Regions from separate parts of the Homo sapiens genome. Here all the other regions are linked to region 2. Evidence: fine-mapped expression QTL. A gene starts in region 2. Each other region holds a variant in brackets. All regions are shown on one strand. Distances are from middle to middle. Region 1 overlaps RPGRIP1 (RPGR interacting protein 1). Region 2 holds the start of RPGRIP1 (RPGR interacting protein 1). Region 3 overlaps RPGRIP1 (RPGR interacting protein 1).

Region 1 (5,000 bases), 32 kb after region 2:
GGCTTTAAGGAGCGGAGAGTTTAATAGGCAAGAAACAAGGGAGAAGAAAGACGGAAGAAGCTCCCCTGTACTGAGACAGAGGGAGAAGGACTCCAAAGCAGAGAGGGGAGACCTCATGTGCCGGGAAAAGTGGCTGCTTATATGAGTAGGCAGGAGGAGGTAGTGTCTGATTTGCATAGGGCTCAGGGGATTGGTTTGACCAGGCATGTCACTCATGTAGCCTGTGGAAAAAACTGGCCCTCCTACCCTAGTCTTTTAATATGCAAATGAAGGGCGCCATGATGTTCTACACACGTGGGGATATGTGGGGGTGGCCATGTTGCCAGGTACAGGTCGGGGAAAGGACAGGAAGACAAGGGCGGGAATCGCCATGTTTGGGTGGACCCAGTTTCTAAAGACCTGTATTTGCATATCAAAGGTTGCCTTCCCGGCTGTAAGAGCCAGGGCTTTCCTGCTAGACAAAAAACGTTTCTGGAGCTGCTTTAAAGGACGAGAAAACTTTCCAAGGACCCCTTTTCCTCTCTATCTGCCTAAAATTATTTTTAATAACTCCTTTAACAGTGCCAGATCAGAAAAGGATTAATGACTGGGTGCGGTGGCTGGAGCCTGTAATCCCAGCACTTTGGGAGGTCAAGGAGGGAGGATCACTTGAGCTCAGGAATTCGAGACCAGCCCAGACAACATGGCGAAACCCCATCTCTATCAAAAATAGAAAAATTAGACAGGCATCGTGATGTGTGCCTGTAGTCCTAGCTACTATGGAGGCTGAGGCAGGAGGATTGCTTGAGTGCTTGAGCCCAGGAGGCAGAGGTTGCAGTGAGCCGAGATCCCGATACGGCACCTCAGCGTGAGACTTTGTCTCAAAAAAAGAAAAAAGAAAAGGATTAATAAAGGAATAGATTTGTGAGTTAAATACTGAAATACTAAAAGATTAGCTTGTGTTAATAAGTGTGTAAGAGAAGAGGGGGCTTTCCATGAGAGCAGAGGTGAGAAACATCAGGTCTGGTCATGAAGGACACACTAAGAATTTTTTTTCTCGTTGTCATTAAAGACAGAACATGCTAGGAATTTAGACTTTATCCTACAAACAGCAGAGAGCTATGTGAAAGGGTTTTAAGCAAGTTGATATGATCAATTTTTTTCTCTCTCAAGATTATTTGACCTTTTTTAAAAAATAAAAAATAAATTTAAAAAAAAAGTTTGGGAGGCTGAGGTGGGTGGATCGCTTGAGGTCAGGAGTTTGAGACCAGCCTGGCCAACATGGTGAAACCCCGTCTCTACTAAAATACAAAAATTAGGTGTGGTGGGGGGCACCTGTAATCTCAGCTACTTGGGAGGTTGAGGAAGGAGAATTGCTTGAACCTGGGAAGCCGAGGTTGCAGTGAGCCAAGATTGTGCCGCAGCACTCCAGCCTGGGCAACAGAGTGAGACTGTCTCAAAAACAAAAACGAAAACTTACCTCTCATATTTGCTACAAGGATTAAATGAGATAATATGTGTGAAATGATTATAATGATCATGATGTGGCAGGTAATGAAACACATAGTAACACATAGCAACTACTCAACTAATTATAGCTGTTGTTATGATCATTCTTTTTTTTTTACTAAAACTGAAGAGATCTTTCTGAAGTGTGCTAAGTAACAGTACCTAATTTAAGATTAAACATTTTTCTTGGATAATCCACCAAGTACAATGCAAATGTTAATAAATGACCCTTCATTCTTTTTTGAGAAATGGTGTGAATGATTGCAGTCACAGACTACTTGGCAAGCTAGGGCAGGGGAAAAATAGCAACAATTAGTAAACAAGTACACAAATTGATTTGTTTTGTGGGATTTTTATAATGTCTTTAAAAATGTTAAGCATTATATTACAGTGATAAATATATCATGAAATTGATAAATCAATAAAATAATAATAATTTCTTTCTTCCAGGCATACGAAACCTTGCTCCAGAAGGTACTTAATGAGAATTGAGTCTCTG[T/C]TTCTTAGTAACCAGAATAATCAAACCCAAAGAAATCTATGTTCATCTCCAAGTAACATAACACCAGAATTTAGCTAACTAAATCAATGTTATTATGTCATATAGTTTCTGTTAAAAATGATACTATTATGATTATCAAAAGATACAGATACTTATTGCACTGTTTTCATAAAAATTGAAATATGAAATTGTAGTTGAGAAATATTTGGCATGGTATTTTTAAGCCTATTGCTGGAGCAAATTATAGCATTTGCTCAAAACTTCCTAAGAGTATTCTTCTAGCATGTGTGAGGTGATGAGATATAACAAAGTTGTTGCAGGTATTCTCAGATGGTCTTAAATATTTGGCCCTATTCACCACTGTGAGTGGGCTGCATGTGAAGCTAGGTGAATGTCTGTGCTTAAGAATCACCACTAAGACAGAGTTCCAAACGAGACCACCCAGCTGTGCCTCACCAGAGGAGTCCGCCAGAAACACACACAGAACTTCTGGAGTTAACATGTCACTTGTCTAGGTACAAACGTAGTCATCATAAAAAAGCAGTCAAATAGCTTAGAAAGTGAAGGCAGCTTTGGAAGGTGGCAACTAATTTAAAGCTAGGGATTAATTTGAACCTTGAGAAAATTAAGGCTCAAGGGCCAGGCGCGGTGGCTCACGCCTGTAATCCCAGCACTTGGGGAGGCGGAGGCGGGTGGATGACCTAAGGTCAGGAGTTCGAGACCAGCCTGGCCAACATGGAGAAACCCTGTCTCTATTAAAAATACAAAAATTAGCTGGGCGTGGTGGCTCATGCCTGTAATCCCAGCTACTCAGGAGGCTGAGGCAGGAGAATTGCTTGAACCCGGTAGGCAGAGGTTGCAGTGAGCCAAGCACTATTGCACTCCAGCCTGGGCAACAGAGCGAGACTGTCTCAATAAATAAATAAATAAATAAATACAAGAAAAGAAAATTAAAGCTCAAATGATGAACTACAATTGCCCAGAATGGAAACCCTACCTACCAGGGAAATTATACTTCCAGAGAAATGCTAGGGTGAAAAACAAGGTTAACGAACAGTACAAAGGTAATAAGCTATTAATCAAAGTCATTCTTTGTGACATCTGTTAGAGAATGCTAGGGTTGCTGGTGTCTGGAGACCACTCGTGCTGAGTGATATGACCATTCCCAGAGGTACTTTCCTTTTGACCCAGAATCAGGGAATCCTGAGTGCAGCCCATGAGGCCCTCCTCAAGCAAGTGAATGAGCTCAGGGCAGAGCTGAAGGAAGAAAGCAAGAAGGCTGTGAGCTTGAAGAGCCAACTGGAAGATGTGTCTATCTTGCAGATGACTCTGAAGGAGGTAAATAATAATAGTTGAAAGATACCATCTACATTTCAACTTCAGGGATGTTAGAATGTGTATCTTAGCAACAATATGAGTATTGCATTTTTTCAAATGACAAAAACGAAGCTCCGAGTAGTTAAATCATTTGCTTAAGATTACACCATTAGAGGGAAAGCTTGGATTTGTACTTATGTCTGTTTTTCAAAGTCCTTGCTCTTTCATAATGTTTTGCTGCTTCCCTAGCAGTAGAAACCCAGAAACAGTGAAGACTTATTTTGGAAAATCCTCATTAATCCCAATACAAGTTTCTAGCCGACCTTCAATTGGTTCAAGTCTTTCTAGTTGGATGGCTTCTCAGACACTGGAGATGGTGATAGAAAGCCTCTCACCCACGCCCCTCCCTGCCATGGACAGGGGAAATCCTGTGCAGGGGAATAGATTTTAACATTTTATCTCAAGGGCTACTATCACTCTTAGTTTCAGGAGAGAGTTGAAGATTTGGAAAAAGAACGAAAATTGCTGAATGACAATTATGACAAACTCTTAGAAAGGTGAGTACCACATTTGGGTCCCAGAGCAGTGTTACTATGAAAGACATTATAGAAAGTTCATTCCTAATACCTAGCATTAATAAATATATGGGGAAATTGGTACTCAATATTGTTAGTGAGAATATTAATCGGCAGTCTTTTGGAAGGGAATTTGACACTATTAAAATGTTAAATGTGCATATCCTCTTTTTTTTTTTTTTGAGATGGAGTCTCGCTCTGCTGCCCAGGCTGGAGTGCAGTGGTGCGATCTTGGCTCACTGCAACCTCTACCTCCCGGGTTCAAACGATTCTCCTGACTCTTCTTCCTTTTTATTTTTTTAACCAGCAATTCCTTTTTTCTTTTTTTGAGATGTAGTTTCTCTCTGTCACCCAGGCTGGAAAACAGTGGCATTCTAGGCTTACTGCAGCCCCAGTCTCCCAGGCTCAAGCAATCCTCCCACCTCAGCCTCCCCAGTAGCTGGGACTACAGGTGTGCACTGCCACACCTGGCTAATTTTTTTCTATTTTTTTGTAGAGACAGGGTTTTGTCAGGTTGCCCAGGCTGGTCTCAAACTCCTGGGCTCAAGTCATCTGCCTGCATCAGCCTCCTAAAATGCTGGGATTACAGGCACGAGCCACCATGTCTGGCCCCCAAATTTTTTGGGGGGCTGGGGGGAATCAAAATGAAAAAATTCTCTTGTGTATGTGCAAATATATGTATATAATAAGAATGTTGCTGGGTGCAGCAGCTCACACCTGTAATCCTAACACTTAGGGAGGCAGAGGTGGGAGGATAACTTGCGCCTAGAAGTTCGAGACCTGTCTGGGCAATATAGTGAGACCCTGTTCTCCACAAAAAGAAAAAAAAAAAAAAGAATGTGAATTACTGCCCTGATAGTAATAGCAAAAAAACAAAAACAAATAAACAAATAAAAAGGAAACCACTGATAAGAGATTGATCACATAAAGCATGTTGCATCCTCACAATGAAGTGCTATGCAGCTGTTAAAAATGAGATAGATGGCCAGGCGCGGCGGCTCATGCCTGTCATCCCAGCACTTTGGGATGCCGAGGCGGCCAGATCACGAGGTCAGGAGTTAGAGACCAGCCTGACCAACATGATGAAGCCCTGTGTCTACTAAAAATACAAAAATTAGCCA
Region 2 (11,176 bases):
TGCAGTGAGCCAAGATCATGCCACTGCACTCTAGACTAAGGGACAGAGCAAGACTCCGTCTCGAAAATTAAAAAAAAAAAAAAATCCTTGTCCACAAAGCTTTAGAACTGGGAGAGATAGCTGGGCGCGGTGGCTCACACCCATAATCCCAACACTTTGGGAGGCCAAGGCAGGAAGATCACGAGGTCAGGAGACGGAGACCATCCTGGCCAACATGGTGAAACCCCGTCCCTACTAAAAATACAAAAATTAGCTGGATATGGTGGCGCATGCCTGTAATCCCAGCTACTTGGGAGGCTGAGGCACGAGAATCGCTTGAACCTGGGAGGCGGAGGTTGCAGTGAGCCGAGATTGCACCACTGCACTCCAGCCTGGCAACAGAGTGGAAAAAAAAAAAAAAAAGAAGGAAAGATAAAGTCTGGATTATGACATCCATTCGTGGTTTTGAAATCAAGTAATATTTGCTTCTAAGTATTATTGACTACCCTTATATTAAATATTAATAGTAAAAATAAAAATTTACTGAGCAGATACCATGTGTAAAGCACTTTTCTAAGTGTTTCACATGAATTAGCTCATTTGATAATTTTATTATCCCCATTTTAAAGATGTAGAAATGAAAGCACAGAAAGGTTAAGTAATTTGCCTAAGGTCACACAACTAGTTTTTGGTGGTGCAAGATTCTGACACTATAGCTAGACACTCGGAAGCCTGTAATCCCAGCTACTCAGGAGGCTGAGGCAGGAGGATCCCTGGAGACCAGGATTTAGCTACCAGCAGCAAGACCGTGTCTCAAAAAGAGAAAAAAAAAAGATTCTAATGCTAGGAGGTCTAGTTCTAGAGGATATGCAAATAACCATTACACTATTATTAATAATGTAATGTATGCCAAGGTGGGAAAATCCTACCCATTCACTCAACAATACTTGTTAAACGTACTATGTAATTAGCTGATGCCACAAGAGCATAGAAGTAAACAAAACAGACATGGCCCTGCCCTTCAGAACAGAATCAAATATTAAATGGATAATTACTCAATTAATTGTTTATACTAAATTGTGAGTGCTACTGAAAATAAGTAAGAAGGTGCTATGAGACCTATATAATAGAGACTTCAAGCCCCTTCAGAAGATATTTGAAAATAAGTGACTTTATTTTAAAAACATCCTCCAGCTTGGGCAACATCTCTTAAATTTTTTTTTTTTTTTTTTTTGAGACAGAGTATCGCTCAGTCGCCAGGCTGGAGTGCAGTGGCACGATCTCGGCTCACTGCAGCTTCCACCTCCCAGGTTCAAGCGATTCTCCTGCCTCAGCCTCCCAAGTAGCTGGGACTATAGGCTTGTGCCATCATGCCCAGCTAATTTTTGTATTTTTAGTAGAGATGGGGTTTCACCATGTTGGCCAAGCGGTCTCAAACTCCTGACCTCGTGGTATGCCCACCTCGGCCTCCCAAAGTGCTGGGGTTATAGGCGTGAGCCACCACGCCCGGCCAAAATATTTTTTTTTAATGAAAAATAGTGGGGCATGGTAGTGGGTGCCTGTAGTCGCAGCCACTCAGGAGGCTGAGGCAGGAGAATCCCTTGACCCCCGGAGTTCCTGGCAGTATGCTATGATTGTGTCTGTGAGCAGCCACTGCACTCCAGCCTGAACAACATAGTGAGACCTCATTTCTGAAAAAAGGAACATATAAACTTCTAATTTCTTTCTTGTTTCTTCAATTTCTCTTTTCACTTTCTACTTAATGTTTTTCTCCTACTTTTCCTTTGTCTTCTTTGTTCCTCTGCTAATTTTCATCTCAGCAGTGACCTAAATCTGGCTTCCTGTAGGTTAAGCCTTCTTTAACGTATTTGCCATCTGTTCTCATTCTGGCTCTGAAGCACAGGATTTTATCCTCTGGTAATTTTTCATTAAGCTAATCTTTGTACAACTTACAAAATGCTTTTTTAGTTGACAAAGGTCACATTTCATTGTCAGTGCTTATTTTACTATTATGGTACAAACTGAGCTCTTGAGCAAATCTAGATGGCATAAAAATACTATGTGAACTATCTGGCCCACATTTTCAAATATAAAATTTATGCAGGGTCTTTTCCTTTTTTTTTTTTTTTTTTTTTTTTTTGAGAGGGAGTCTCCCTCTGTAGCCCAGGCTGGAGTGCAGAGGTGCGATCTGGGCTCACTGCAGCCTCCCTCTCCCAGGTTCAAGTGATTCTCCTGCCTCAGCCTCCAGATGCTGGAAATACAGGAGTGCGCCACCACGCTCAGCTAATTTTTGTTTTGTTTTTTTTTGAGATGGAGTCTCGCTCTGTCGCCCAGGCTGGAGTGCAGTGGCGCGATCTCGGCTCACTGCAAGCTCCACCACCCAGGTTCACGCCATTCTCCTGCCTCAGCCTCCCGAGTAGCTGGGACTACAGGCGCCTGCCACCGCGCCCGGCTAATTTTTTGTATTTTTAGTAGAGACGGGGTTTCACGGTGTTAGCCAGGATGGTCTGGATCTCCTGACCTTGTGATCCACCCGTCTCGGCCTCCCAAAGTGCTGGGATTACAGGCGTGAGCCACCGCGCCTGGCCTGTATTTTCAGTAGAGACGGGTTTTCGCCATGTTGTCCCGGCTGGTCTCGAACTCCTGACCTCAAGTGATCCACCCGCCTCTGCCTCCCAAACTGTTGGGATTACAGGAGTGAGCCACTGCACCTGGCTTGTTTGGTTTTTCTTTTGTTTTTGAGATGGAGTCTTGCCCTGTCGCCAGGCTGGAGTGCAGTGGTGCCATCTCCACACACTGCAACCTCCGACTCCCTGGTGCAAGCTAATCTACTTCCTCAGCCTCCTGAGTAGCTGGGATTATAGGCAGGCACCACCAAGCCCAGCTAATTTTTGTATTTTTAGTAGAGACGGGGTTTCACCATGTTGGCCAGGATGGTCTCAATCTCCTGACATCATGGTCCACTCGCCTCAACCTCCCAAAGTGCTGGGATTACAGGAGTGAGCCACCGCACCTGGCCTTTTTTTTTTTTTTTTTTTTTTTACAGGGTCTCCCTCTGTTGCCCAGGCTGGATTGCAGTGGCGCCATCTCGGCTCACCGCACCCTCCACTGCCCGGATCTAATCCATCTTCCCACCTCACCCTCCCGGATAGCTGGGATTACAAGTATGCGCCACCACGTCTGGCTAATTTCTTTGTATTTTTAGTAAGACAGATTCTGCCATGTTGGTCAGGCTGGTCTTGAATTCCTGGCCTCAAGTCATTGGCTGCCTTAACCTCCCAAAGTGCTAGGATTACAGATGCGAGCCACCATGCCAGGCCTCAGGGGACCTTTGTATTTTAACTTTTTTTTTTTTTTTTTGAGCTGGAGTCTCGCTTCGTTGCCCAGGCTGGGGTGCAGTGGCAAGATCTCGGTTCACTGCAACCTCCACCTCCATGATTCGCCCACCTCGGCCTCCCAAAGTGCAGGGATTATAGGCATGAGCCACAGCACCTGACCTGAAATTTCTGTTTTTTTTTTTTTTTTTTGAGACAGAGTTCTGCTCTGTCGCCCAGGCTGGAGTGCAGTGGCGCAATCTCGGCTCACTGCAACCTCCGCCTCCCCGGTTCAAGTGATTCTCCTGCTTCAGCCTCCAGAGTAGCTGGGATTACAGGCACTCACAACCACGCGCAGCTAATTGTTTTTGTATCTTTAGTAGAGACAGGGTTTCACCATGTTGGCCAGGCTGGTTTCAAACTCCTGACCTTAGGTGATCCACCCACTTCGGCCTCCCAAAGTTCTGGGATTACAGGTGTGAGCCACCAAGCCTGGCCAATGACTGAAATTTCTTTTTGTTTTTTTTTGAGATGGAGTTTTGCTCTTGTTGCCCAGGCTGGAGTGCAATGGTGCAGTCTCGGCTCACTGCAACCTCCGCCTCTGGGGTTCAAGTGATTCTCACTGCCTCAGCCTGGTGAGTAGCTGGGATTACAGGTGCCTGCCACCACGCCCAGCTAATGTTTGTATTTTTAGTAGAGATGGGATTTCACCATGTTGGTCAGGCTGGTCTCGAATTCTTGACCTCAGGTGATCCACCCACCTCAGCCTCCCAAAGTGCTGGGATTGCAGGTGTGAGCCACCGTGCCCGGCCTGAAATTTCTTTAACACAGAACAAAGTCTTACTGTCTACATTGAGAAGTACATTAAGCCTAGTGGAAAAAGTATCACGTAAATTCACTCCAAGATGTAATGAGAATGTTAAGGGAAACTGGTTGCCTGAAAGAGGTAGGAGATGTTTTAAAAATTAACAAAAGTCAGCCGGGAATGGTGGCTCACGCCTGTAATACCAGCACTGTGGGAGGCTAAGGCGGGTGAATCACCTGAGGTCAGGAGGTCAAGACCAGCCAGGCCAACATAGTGAAACCTCATCTCTACTAAAAATACAAAAAATTAGCTGGGTGTGGTGGCGGGTGCCTGTAATCCCAGCCACTAGGGAGACTGAGGCAGGAGAATCTCTTGAACCCGGGAGGCAGAGGTTGCAGTGAGCCAAGATTGTGCCATTGCACACCAGCCTGGGCAACAAGAGCAAAACTCCGTCTCAAAAAAAAAAAAAAAAAAAAATTAACAAAAGTCAGAGGTTCAGAAAAGAGAACACGATTATCAAACACAAACTTGGCTTACTTCAAAATTAATTTTGTCCTGCACTGTCTCTGGCTAGAGCATCTTAAAAAAGGACAGAAAATCCCAGATTTATCAAGAAATAGCTTGGGCAAGAAGCAACCTTAAGTGCATAAAAGCCCAGCTTTTAAATTTTATAAATCTGTCATTTAAACCTGGTAAAATATTATATTGAATTTTCCTCTCTTCACTGGGAAATGTATGTGTCCTGGATACTTTCTCTACTTCCTAATTGTCTCCCTAGCTTTATTTTATTTTATTTTATTTTATTATTTCATGGGATTTAGAGGAAGTCACATGGGGCCCATTAACTATGTGTTCATCCTCCTGGAAATCCCCGAACCTCATGCCAATAACCAGAATGGAGCTTTCTCAATGCACCCATTCAGTGCATTAAAGAGAGGATTTAGGCCAGTCGTGGTGGCTCAGGCCTGTAATCCCAGCACTTTGGGAGGCCAAGGTAGGTGGATCACCTGAGGTCGGGAGTTCGAGACCAGCCTGACCAACATGGAGAAACCTTGTCTCTAGTAAAAATACAAAATTAGCTGGGCGTGGTGGCGCATGCCTGTAATCCCAGCTACTCAGGAGGCTGAGGCAGGAGAATTGCTTGAACCCGGGAGGCAGAGGTTGCAGTGAGCCGAGATCGCACCATTGCACTCCTGCCTAGGTAACAAGAGCGAAACTGCATCTCAAAATAAATAAATAAATAAAGAGGATTTTATGTAACAATTGAGACCGTATTCCACTTAATATATAATATGAATGCAGTGACCAGCCTTGCAGAATTTTTAAGAACATTTAATTTTCTTATATCAAATCCTATTGCTTCATAATTACATCCCAAAGTTTGGTTTCAAAACGGTGGTCACGGTGAAATGGAAGATATACATTCTCTTACTCGAAAGCACTGGCACATGTGGACTGAATAGGCATGTTGATCCCACCAACGGTGCAGTGTTTGTTCTCTTCAAAGGGATCTCAGGGCTTCAGAACAACTCCCACTGTTGTTGCCCTTCAGATAAAGATTTAAAGAATATCGGCCGGGCGCGGTGGCTCAAGCCTGTAATCCCAGCACTTTGGGAGGCCAAGGCGGGCAGATCACCTGAGGTCAGGAGTTCGAGACCAGCCTCAACATTGAGAAACTCCATCTCTACTAAAAATACAAAGTGAGCTGGCTGTGGTGGTGCATGCCTGTAATCCCAGCTACTCGGGAGGCTGAGGCAGGAGAATTGCTTGAACCTGGGAGGCAGAGGTTGCGGTGAGCCGAGATCGCGCCATTGCACTCCAGCCTGGGCAACAAGAGTGAAACTCTGTCTCAAAATAAATAAATAAATAAATAAAAGATTTAAAGATCATCCTCTGAATACCAACAAATTTCTTTTAATCTCAAATCCCGCAAATGTGTTCTCAGCTTTAGTTTTAGTTGAGAAGTGGATCTGTTAAGGACCCTTTAAGCTGCTCTTTCTCCAAGTCAAACATGCATAGAGAAAAAGCACAGCCTTCACACACTCTGATCTACAAAGAGTTAACATCTTAAAAGCTAAACAGAACTGGATTAGCTCCTCTTTTAACAAGCCAGAAGGACAAGCTTATTGGAACCTAGAGTACTAAAGGACACCAGAACATTGAGAGAAAAGAATTAGCGACAGCTATCTGGAGCAAGCAAGAACTGTAAGTTTCTATCTGATGCATATTTATAGTTTCCTATGTCTTCCCTAGGGGTGTTTTTGAGAAGAATGAAATAAGTTTATTCTTTTTTTTTTTTTTTTTTTTGAGACAGAGTCTTACTCTGTCGCCCAGGCTGGAGTGCACCGGCACTATCTCTGCTCACTGCAACCTCTGCCTCCCAGGTTCAAGCGATTCTCCTGCCTCAGCCTCCCAAGTAGCTGGGGACTACAGGCATGCGCCACCATTGCCCGGCTAATTTTTGTGTTTTTAGTAGAGACGGGGTTTCACCATGTTTGCCAGGCTGGTCTTGAACTCCTGACCTCAGGTGATTCACCCGCCTCGGCCTCCCAAAGTGCTGGGATTACTGGCATGAGCCACCGCGCCTGGCCTGGTTTATTCATTTTCTATTGTACCACCAGTCTCCCAGGCATCCAGCACAACATTACCAAGTCATCTTTAATCCTGTCACCCTCTTAACTCTATCTCACGTCCAACCAGTTGTCACATCTTTTGATTCTCCTTCCTCAGTGTCTTCATGATCCATCCTATTCTTCCATCCCCCACCCCCCTCCTTCCCTAGTTCAAGACTTCTTGCCTGAACTATAGCAATATCCTCTTAACACTGTTCTCTCCCCAATTTCCAAATCACTAATAGTAGATGAATCTTCCTAATGCTCTTCCATAGCTCTAATTATATTGCTCTTTTGCTCAGAAATGTATCCACTATCTGCAGAATGAATAAAACTCCTTTTCAAATTAATTAATTTTTAATTGACAATTTGAAATTGTATATATTTATTGTGTAAAATTTGTTGCTTTGAAATATATATATAGAGAGAGTGGAAAATGGCTACCTTGGGCTTTTCTTTTTTTTTTTTTTGAGACAGAATCTCTCTCTCTCGTGAGGCTGGAGTGCAGTGGCTCAATCTCGGCTCACTGCAACCTCTGCCTCCTGGGTTCAAACAATTCTCCTGCCTCAACCTCCCGAGTAGCTGGGACTACAGGTGCGCACCACCATGCCCAGCTAATTTTTGCATTTTTAGTAGAGACAGGGTTTTACCATGTTGGCCACGGCCAGGATGGTCTTGATCTCTTGATCTTGTGATCTGCCCGCCTTGGCCTCCCAAAGTGCTGGGATTACGGGCGTGAGCCACCACACCTGCCCAATCTTGGGCTAATTAAAATATGTATTACCTCATATGCTCATCAATTTTTTGTGTTTGATGAGAACACTTAAAAATCTACTCTTGGCCCAGGCGTGTTGGCTCACACCTGTAATCTCAGCATTTTGGGAGGCTGAGGCGGGTGGATCACTTGAGATCAGGAGTTCAAGACCAGTCTGGCCAACATGGCAAAACCCTGTCTCTACTAAGAATAGAAAAATTAGCTGGGCGTGGCGGCTTGCGCCTGTAATTGCAGCTGCCTGGGGGGCTGAGACATGAGAATTGCTTGAACCCTGGAGGCAGAGGTTGCAGTGAGGCGAGAGCATACCGCTGTACTCCAGCCTGGGCAACAGAGTGAGACCTTGTCTCAAAAAAAAAAAAAATAAATAATAATAATAATAATAATAATAATAATAATCAGAGTAAGGGGAACTGGCTACAAAATTTTAAATGCTTGCCCAGTGATACAGAGTGTAAAAAAGAAAAAAAAGAAGTCTGGGCAGGGTGGCTCATGCCTGTAATCCCAGCACGTTGGGAGACCGAGGCTGGCGGATCCCAAGGTCCGGAGTTCGAGACCAGCCTGGCCAAAATTGTGAAATCTTGTCTCTACTAAAAAATACAAAAAATTAGCTGGGCATGGTGGCAGGTGCCTGTAATCCCAGCTACTCTGGAGGCTGAGACAGGAGAATCGCTTGAACCCGGGAAGCGGAGGTTGCAGTAAACTGAGATTGCAACATTGCACTCCAGCCCAGGCAACAATGTGATACTCTGTCTCGAAAAAAGAGGAAAAGAAAATTTTAATTGCTGATGTCATCAAGCTGGCTTTATACGTCTATCCATCTATCACTAGTAAAGGGTTCTTCACCCTCACTAACCTATACTTGTCCAAGTGCACTGCAATTCTGAATATCACTGCAAGGAAATTTTTTTTTTTTTAAGACGGAGTCTTGCTCTGTCACCCGGCTGGAGTGCAGTGGCGTGATCTCACCTCACTGCAATCTCTGCCTCCCAGGTTCAAGCAATTCCCCTGCCTCAGCCTCCTGAGTACCTGGGACTACAGGCACGCACCACCATGCCTGGCTAATTTTTTTGTATTTTAGTAGAGACGGGGTTTCACTATGTTGACCAGGATGGTCTCGATCTCCTGACCTCATGATCAGCCCGCCTCAGCCTCCCATAGTGCTGGGATTACAGGCGTGAGCCACCACGCCGGGTGGAAGTTTCTTCAGTCTTTCATCCTGTTGAGTTCAAAACAATTGATAAACCCTTTTAGAATCTACATTCCATTTTTTTTTTTTTTTTTTTTTTGAGACAGAGTCTCGCTCTGTCTCCCAGGCTGGAGTGCAGTGGCGTGATCTCGGCTCACAGCAAGCTCCGCCTCCCAGGTTCACGCCATTCTCCTGCCTCAGCCTCCCCAGTAGCTGGGACTACAGGCGCGTGCCACCACACCCGGCTAATTTTTTGTATTTTGTAGTAGAGATGGAGTTTCACCACGTTAGCCAGGATAGTCTTGATCTCCTGACCTTGTGATCCACCCATCTCGGCCTCCCAAAGTGCTGGGATTACAGGCGTGAGCCACTGTGCCCGGCCTACATTCCACTTTTTCATTCCTGAGAAATTAAATCTGGCCACTGGATGTTCAACACGCCTTCACTGACAGTCTCAACTGGCTTTTCTTCTCTAGCATTCCAATAAACTCCATTTCATTCTTAGAGCTTCTGTGACTTCAGTTTTAATGATACTTTTCAATTGCTCCATAGTGCCATATAGCATTGGTGGTGCGTCAATGTGCTCTGGGCCCAGATATTAAGAACAACAGCATCCCTTCTACTACAGCTCCATTTTTGCAAATGGCTTCAGGTCCAGAGGACCAAGCTTATGATGCAGTCACCTTTCCTTTTCCTTCACATTACTTTTCTACAGTAGGAAACTAGGAAGGTGGGTGACTAAGTAAACCTGTAGATGCTACTCTATTTATTTTATTTATTATTATTATTTTTTGAGAAGCTGTCTCACACTGTCGCCCAGGCTGGAGTGCAATGGTGTAATCTTGGCTCACTGCAATCTCCGCCTCCTGTGCTCAAGCGATTCTCCTGCTTCAGCCTCCAGAGCAGCTGGGACTACAGGCATGAGCCACTACACCCAGCTAATTTTTGTATTTTTAGTAGAAATGGGGTTTCGCCATGTTAGCCAGGCTGGTCTCAAACTCCTGACCTTGTGATCTGCCCGCCTCGGCCTCCCAAAGTGCTGGGATTACAGGCATGAGCCACTGTGCCCAGCCCCTATATATGGTACTTCAAATGGAGATTTACTTGTAAACTAAATGCAGATTTACTTTTTTTTTTTTTTTAGACAGAGTCTCACTCTGCTTTGCCCAGGCTGGAGTGGAGTGCAGTGGCACGATCTTGGCTCACTGCAATCTCCACCTGCCGGGTTGAAGCGATTCTCCTGCCTCAGCCTCCCGAGTAGCCGGATTACAGGCGCCTGTCACCATGCCCAGCTAACTTTTGTCATGTGGCTGGGCTAGTCTCGAACTCCTGGCCGCAGGTGATCCATCCGCCTCAGCCTCCCAAAGTGTTGGGATTATAAACGTGAGCCACCGTGCCTGGCCTGAGATTTACTTGTAATCCTAGGTCTAACATGCGAAAGTACTTAAACTTTGGGGTGATTATTCAGCTTTCTTAAAATAGGCATGCTATGAAATCTGTATAGATCTATTTAAGACTATGACATTGGAAAGATGCTCTCCATTTATTGTGATTTTTAAAAATGAAATGTTACAGAACAGAGTATGAATTATCCAATTCAAGTTAAATTGCCCGGAAAGCAGATCAATACAATGTTTACATTTTCTCTAGGTGATAGAATTTCTCCATTATACTTTTTGCTTTCTTCTTTATATTTCTCTGTTTGTTCAAAATAAGCTTCTGAACACCCTTCTCCAGTTGACAAGTCAAGCTAGCTTCAACAAAAAGGGAGAATTTGTTGTATAGGGCACAAGACTCTACTATAGAACCTAAAGGTAGGAACAGAGCCAGACAGTGGCATTTATGGAAATAGGGAAAGACTGGGAAACAATCAGACTGGTAAGAGAAATTACAATTCCTCTTTGGGAAAGGTGAGTTTCAGTTGTCTAGTATGTTTACTAGGGGAAACATTTGAAAGGGGAAATGTTTAAAAAGAATTTGTACAAATCTGAAAGTCAAGGCTGGAGAACTAAATTTTTTTTTTTTTTTTTTTTGAAGATGGAATCTCTCTCTTGTCACCCAGGCTGGAGTACAGTGGCACGATCTCTGCTCACTGCATCCTCCGCCTCCCGGGTTCAAACTATTCTCCTGCTTTAGACTCCTGAGTAACTGGGATCACTCTGTCGTGGCACATGTCACCGCGCCCAGCAAATTTTTGTATGTTTAGTAGAGACAGGGTTTCACCATGTTGGCCAAGCTGGTCTTGAACTCCTGACCTCAGATGATTTGCCCGCCTCAGCCTCCCAAAGTACTGCGAATACAGGCGTGAACCACTGCTCCCAGCTGAGACATAAATTTTGGAGACAAAACTGGAAAAGACTGGAATCAAGAACAGAATGCTTTAAGAACTTTTTGACTCACTTCAGTCCCTCAGTGTCATTCTCTCTCTTGTTCGTTCATTCTACTTTTCATACATTCGGTGTTTATTTGTTGAGTACCTGCTATGTGCCAATAACTGTTCGGGTA
Region 3 (5,000 bases), 39 kb after region 2:
GGTTCAAGTGATTCTCCTTCCTCAGCCTCCCAAGTAGCCGTGACCACAGGTGTGTGCCACCATGCCTGGCTAATTTTTGTGGTTTTTTTTTTTTTTTTTTTGAGACAAAGTCTCACTCTGTTGCCCAGGCTGAGAGTGCAGTGGCGCAGTCTCGGCTCACTGCAACCCCTGCCTCCCGATGTTTAAGCTATTCTTCTGCCTCAGCCTCCTGAGTAGCTGGGATTATAGGTGCCGGCCACCACACCTGGTTAATTTTTTGTATTTTTAGTAGAGACGGGGTTTCACCATGTTGGGCAGGCTGATCACCAACTCCTGACCTCGAGATCTGCCTGCCTCAGCCTCCCAAAGCACTGGAATTACAGGTGTGAGCCACCGCGCCCAGCCAATTTTTGTATTTTTAATGGAGATGGGGTTTCACCATGTTGGCCAGGCTGGCCTCGAACCCCTGACCTCAGATAATCTGCCCACCTTGACCTCCCAAAGTGCTGGGATTACAGGTGGGAACCATCCAGCCTGGCCGGTAAGTTATTTATTTATTTCTTGAGACGGAATCTCACACTGTTACCTGGGCTGGTGTGCAGTGGCACGATCTCAGCTCGCTGCAGTGTCCGCCTGCTGGGTTCAAGCAATTCTCCAGCCTCAGCCTCCCAAGTAGCTAGGATTACAGGCACCTGCCACCACACCCAGCTAACTTTTTGTATTTTCAGTAGAGACAGGGTTTCACTATGTTGGCCAGGCTGGTCTCGAAGTCCTGACCTCATGATCTGCCCTCCTCGGCCTCCCAAAGTGTTGCGATTGCAGGCGTGAGCCACTGTGCCCAGCCTGGTAAATTATTTTTAAACCACATTTACTAAAATGATAAATAAGAAATAAGACATAAAAAGAAATAATTGTTTGATTATTAGTGTCATTTCATTTGTATGAATGACCAAGAACTAGCCATGTGGCTGGGCATGGTGGCTCACACCTATAATCCCAACACTTTGGGAGGCCGAGGCAGGTGGATCACCTGAGGTCAGGAGTTCAAGACCAGCACAGCCAACATTGTAAAACCCCGTCTCTATTAAAAATACAAAAATTAGCTGGGCCTGGTGGTGGGTTACTTTAATCCCAGCTACTCAGGAGGCTGAGGCAGGAGAATCGCTTGAACCTGGGAGGCAGAGGTTGCAGTGAGCCAAGATTGCACCCCTGCACTCCAACCTGGGTGACAGCTCGAGATTCTGTCTCAAAAAAAAAAGAAAAAAGAAAAAAAAAGGAACCAGCCATGTGTATTTTATACTCAAAATGGGTCTGCTCTGACAGCTTGATACAATAGGGTGGAGGATACAGTTGTTGAAAAGTTTAATTCCCGCCCTTCAGCATAGTAATTTATAATCTAGGTCAAAGACAAATATTCTCTAAACTCACCGTTGGTGAAGGTAGATGGAGGCATGGGGTTTGAGAAAAGGAAGATTTTGTTCCTCATTTCTAATCCGGCAGGCCTGAGAAGGTCTTGATACATAGTTCCCTGACTAAAGAAAGCCATCATGGTGGAGAAGTTCCTTGGGAAATGGATATGACTTGGGGTGTTTGCTCAGTCAGATATCTGAGACCTAAACAGAAATGGTACTGAGCAATAACTCAGTAGGACTCAAAAGTTCCAAGGCAGTTGGTAAATGACAGTTATGAATAAAGCAAGGGCAGAAAAAAACATGTAGGGGAGAGAATGAGGAACTAGGTCCAGGAGATGCTGAAACTGGATAATAAAGACGTCATATCACACCCCTTGGGGTATCCATCTGAGAGCTTGCTTTCCATTGCCAGCATGCTGGACAGCAGTGACAGCTCCAGTCAGCCCCACTGGAGCAACGAGCTCATAGCGGAACAGCTACAGCAGCAAGTCTCTCAGCTGCAGGATCAGCTGGATGCTGAGCTGGAGGACAAGAGAAAAGTTTTACTTGAGCTGTCCAGGGAGAAAGGTAGGCTGGACCTTGAAGAGCTCTCTCAAATGTGGCATCCTCTACCTCTGGTTTGGGAGAAGATAACTTGAGCCATCATTTCTTTAATCCCCTCACTTGATCCTATTCTTTTGTGGGTTGTAGGTAACTAGAATGAGAACACTAGCAATAGATCAGATCTACAATCAGGAAAACATGACACTTACCTACCTCTCATGTATACTTTTTCCTATATAATGTCTTTCCATTTGAGAAGATGCTAGTTTTTGTTTGTTTGTTTGTTTGTTTGTTTTTGAGGTGGAGTTTCGCTCTTGTTGCTCAGGCTCGAGTGCAATGGCACGATTTCAGCTCACTGCAACCTTCACCTCCCAGGTACAAGCGATTCTCCTATCTCAGCCTCCCAAGTAGCTCGGATTACAAGCATGCACTACCACGCCTGGCTATTTTTTTTTTTTTGTATTTAGTAGAGATGGGGTTTTACCATGTTAGTTAGGCTGGTCGTGAACTCCTGACCTCAGATGATCCACCAGCCTCAGCTTCCCAAAGTGCTGGGATTACAGGCGTGCGCCACTGTGCCCGACCTGCCAGTTTTTAATTTATTATGTTTTTTAAACGTTCAGTTTATTGAAAGTTTT[C/G]TTTTGTTTGGTTTGGTTTGGTTTTGTTTCTGAGAGAGTCTCACTCTGTCACCCAGGCTGGAGTACAGTGATGCGATCTGGGCTCACTTCAACCTCTGCCTCCCAGGTTCAAGAGATTCTCCTGCCTCAGCCTCCCGAGTTGCTGGGATTGCAGGTGCCCACCACCACACCCAACTAATTTTTTGTATATTTTAGTAGAGACGAGGGTTCACTATGTTGGCCAGGCTGGTCTGAAACTAACCTCAAGTGATCCACCCGCCTCAGCCTCCCAAAGTGCTGGGATTACAGGTGAAAGCCACTACACCTGGCTGAAAGTATTGAAAGTGAATTTCTTTGTCTTTTATCCTTCTCATCATTTTAGAGGTAACTGGAATACTTTTTTTTTTTTTTGCCATCCAATTCTTGAAATTGAGTAGCAAATTACTATTCTTGGTTACCACTGCCAGTTCACCCCCGTCTTAACTCTTGGATCTCAGGAGATAGGTATTTGGAACATTTTTAAATACTGTCAAAAAGACCTTCATCTTACTACTTTTTCCTAGCCTGGACCTTAATATTTAGTTTTATCAAATTTATATCTCATCAAGTTTTAGTGTATTCAAATAGGGAACGGAAGGAAAAGAAATGTGTGAAATCAAGAAAAATAGAGGCAAGAACCATGTTTAGGAGCACATGCCAATTAGTATGTTTGAAGCACAAATGAAGTCTTGTAAGGACCTTCAGGGCAATCTAATTTAATCCCTTCTCTAATGCATGATGGAAATGATCTGCTCACTAAACACCGATTACCTTTATTCCCTGAAAAACACACACACAGCCTGGTGTGGTGGCTCATGCCTGTAATCCCAGCACATTGGGAGGCCGAGGCCAGCAGATCACATGAGGCCAGGAGTTTCAGACCAGCCTGGCCAACATGGTGAAACCCCATCTTTACTAAAAACACGAAAATTAGCCAGTCGTAGTGTCGTGCGCCTGTAATACCAGCTACTCAGGAGGCTGAGGCACAAGAATCGTTGAACCCTGGAGGCATAGGTTGCAGGGAGCCAAGATCGCACCACTGCACTCCATCCTGAGTGATGGAGTAAGACTGTCTAAAGAGAAAAACACACACACACACATTGGAACACAGAAATGCCCATCCTCCATCCAGGCCAGGGTGGGTGTGAAGATGGGTGCCACAGAGAGCTAGTAACCTAGAAGTCAGAATGGAGTGGGGGTGGAGTTGGTGAGATACTGGTTTCGATGCTGCTGTCAAAAAGTTTGGATTACCCTAGTCAAGTGATTCCCTTTCTGTTTTGTGTTGTTATTGTTATTCCACTTTCCACTCTACCATTCTGCAGGTGTCTTTTGTTTTCGGAGTGCAAGTAGTATCACCTCAGTTTACTGAGTCAATAAGCTAGAGTCCTCCTCTGTAGAAATAATAGAGAATTGCTTCTCAAATTTATAACATTAATTAAACCTTAGTGGGAAGATTAAATTCACACTTGATCCAACTCTGACCATGGTGATAAATAACTACAGAATTTCACATTTCTGGATTATTTTTCCCCAGCCCAAAATGAGGATCTGAAGCTTGAAGTCACCAACATACTTCAGAAGCATAAACAGGAAGTAGAGCTCCTCCAAAATGCAGCCACAATTTCCCAACCTCCTGACAGGCAATCTGAACCAGCCACTCACCCAGCTGTATTGCAAGAGAACACTCAGATCGAGGTAAGAGCCTCTTTAAACAAACTAGTCCACTCTGCAGAGAGATCTCTGGCAAATATCTCTAGGGAAGATGATGAGATTAGAAAACTAACTAAATAATATTTTGTCCTGACTGAGGACACTCTTTTTTTTTTTGAGACAGAGTCTCGCTGTCGCCCAGGCTGGAGTGCAGTGGCGCGATCTCGGCTCACTGCAGGCTCCGCCCCCTGGGGTTCACGCCGTTCTCCTGCCTCAGCCTTCCGAGTAGCTGGGACTACAGGCACCCGCCACCTCGCCCGGTTAATTTTTTTGTATTTTTAGTAGAGACGGGGTTTCACCGTGTTAGCCAGGATGGTCTCGATCTCCTGACCTCGTGATCCGCCCACCTCGGCCTCCCAAAGTGCTGGGATTACAGGCGTAAGCCACCGCGCCCGGCCCACTCTTTTTTTTTTTTTTTTTTTTTGAGATGGAGTTTTGCTCTTGTTTCCCAGGCTGGAGTGCAATGGCGCGATCTCGGCTCACTACAGTCTTTGCCTCCCAGGTTTAAGCAATTCTCCTTCCTCAGCCTCCCGAGTAGCTGGGATTACAGGTGCTTGCCACCACAGCCGGCTAATTTTTTGTATTTTTAGTAGAGACAGGGTTTCGCCATTTTGGCCAGGCTGGTCTCGAACTCCTGACCTCTGGTGATCCGCCCAACTCAGCCTCCCAAAGTGCTGGGATTACAGGCACGTGCCACTGT

The links. PIP is the estimated chance that this variant, and not a neighbour inherited with it, causes the effect. A credible set is the group of variants that fine-mapping cannot tell apart.
Region 1: its variant is the best candidate, but not a certain one, in a credible set for the expression of RPGRIP1 in whole blood (INTERVAL, PIP 0.58).
Region 3: its variant is the best candidate, but not a certain one, in a credible set for the expression of RPGRIP1 in whole blood (INTERVAL, PIP 0.56).

The regions. Positions count from the first base shown.
Region 1 is chr14:21,308,646-21,313,645 of GRCh38, forward strand. It overlaps RPGRIP1 (RPGR interacting protein 1), which reads left to right. Exons shown (of 25, transcript NM_020366.4): 8 at 1,939-1,962; 9 at 3,179-3,325; 10 at 3,788-3,861. Among named protein-coding and RNA genes, the nearest start is that of RPGRIP1, 31 kb to the left of the region's middle. RefSeq lists enhancers at 239-766, 589-748. The variant T/C (reference allele first, on the strand shown) is at 1,988.
Region 2 is chr14:21,273,857-21,285,032 of GRCh38, forward strand. It overlaps RPGRIP1 (RPGR interacting protein 1), which reads left to right and starts at 6,227. Exons shown (of 25, transcript NM_020366.4): 1 at 6,227-6,303.
Region 3 is chr14:21,315,893-21,320,892 of GRCh38, forward strand. It overlaps RPGRIP1 (RPGR interacting protein 1), which reads left to right. Exons shown (of 25, transcript NM_020366.4): 11 at 1,804-1,958; 12 at 4,125-4,285. Among named protein-coding and RNA genes, the nearest start is that of RPGRIP1, 38 kb to the left of the region's middle. The variant C/G (reference allele first, on the strand shown) is at 2,573.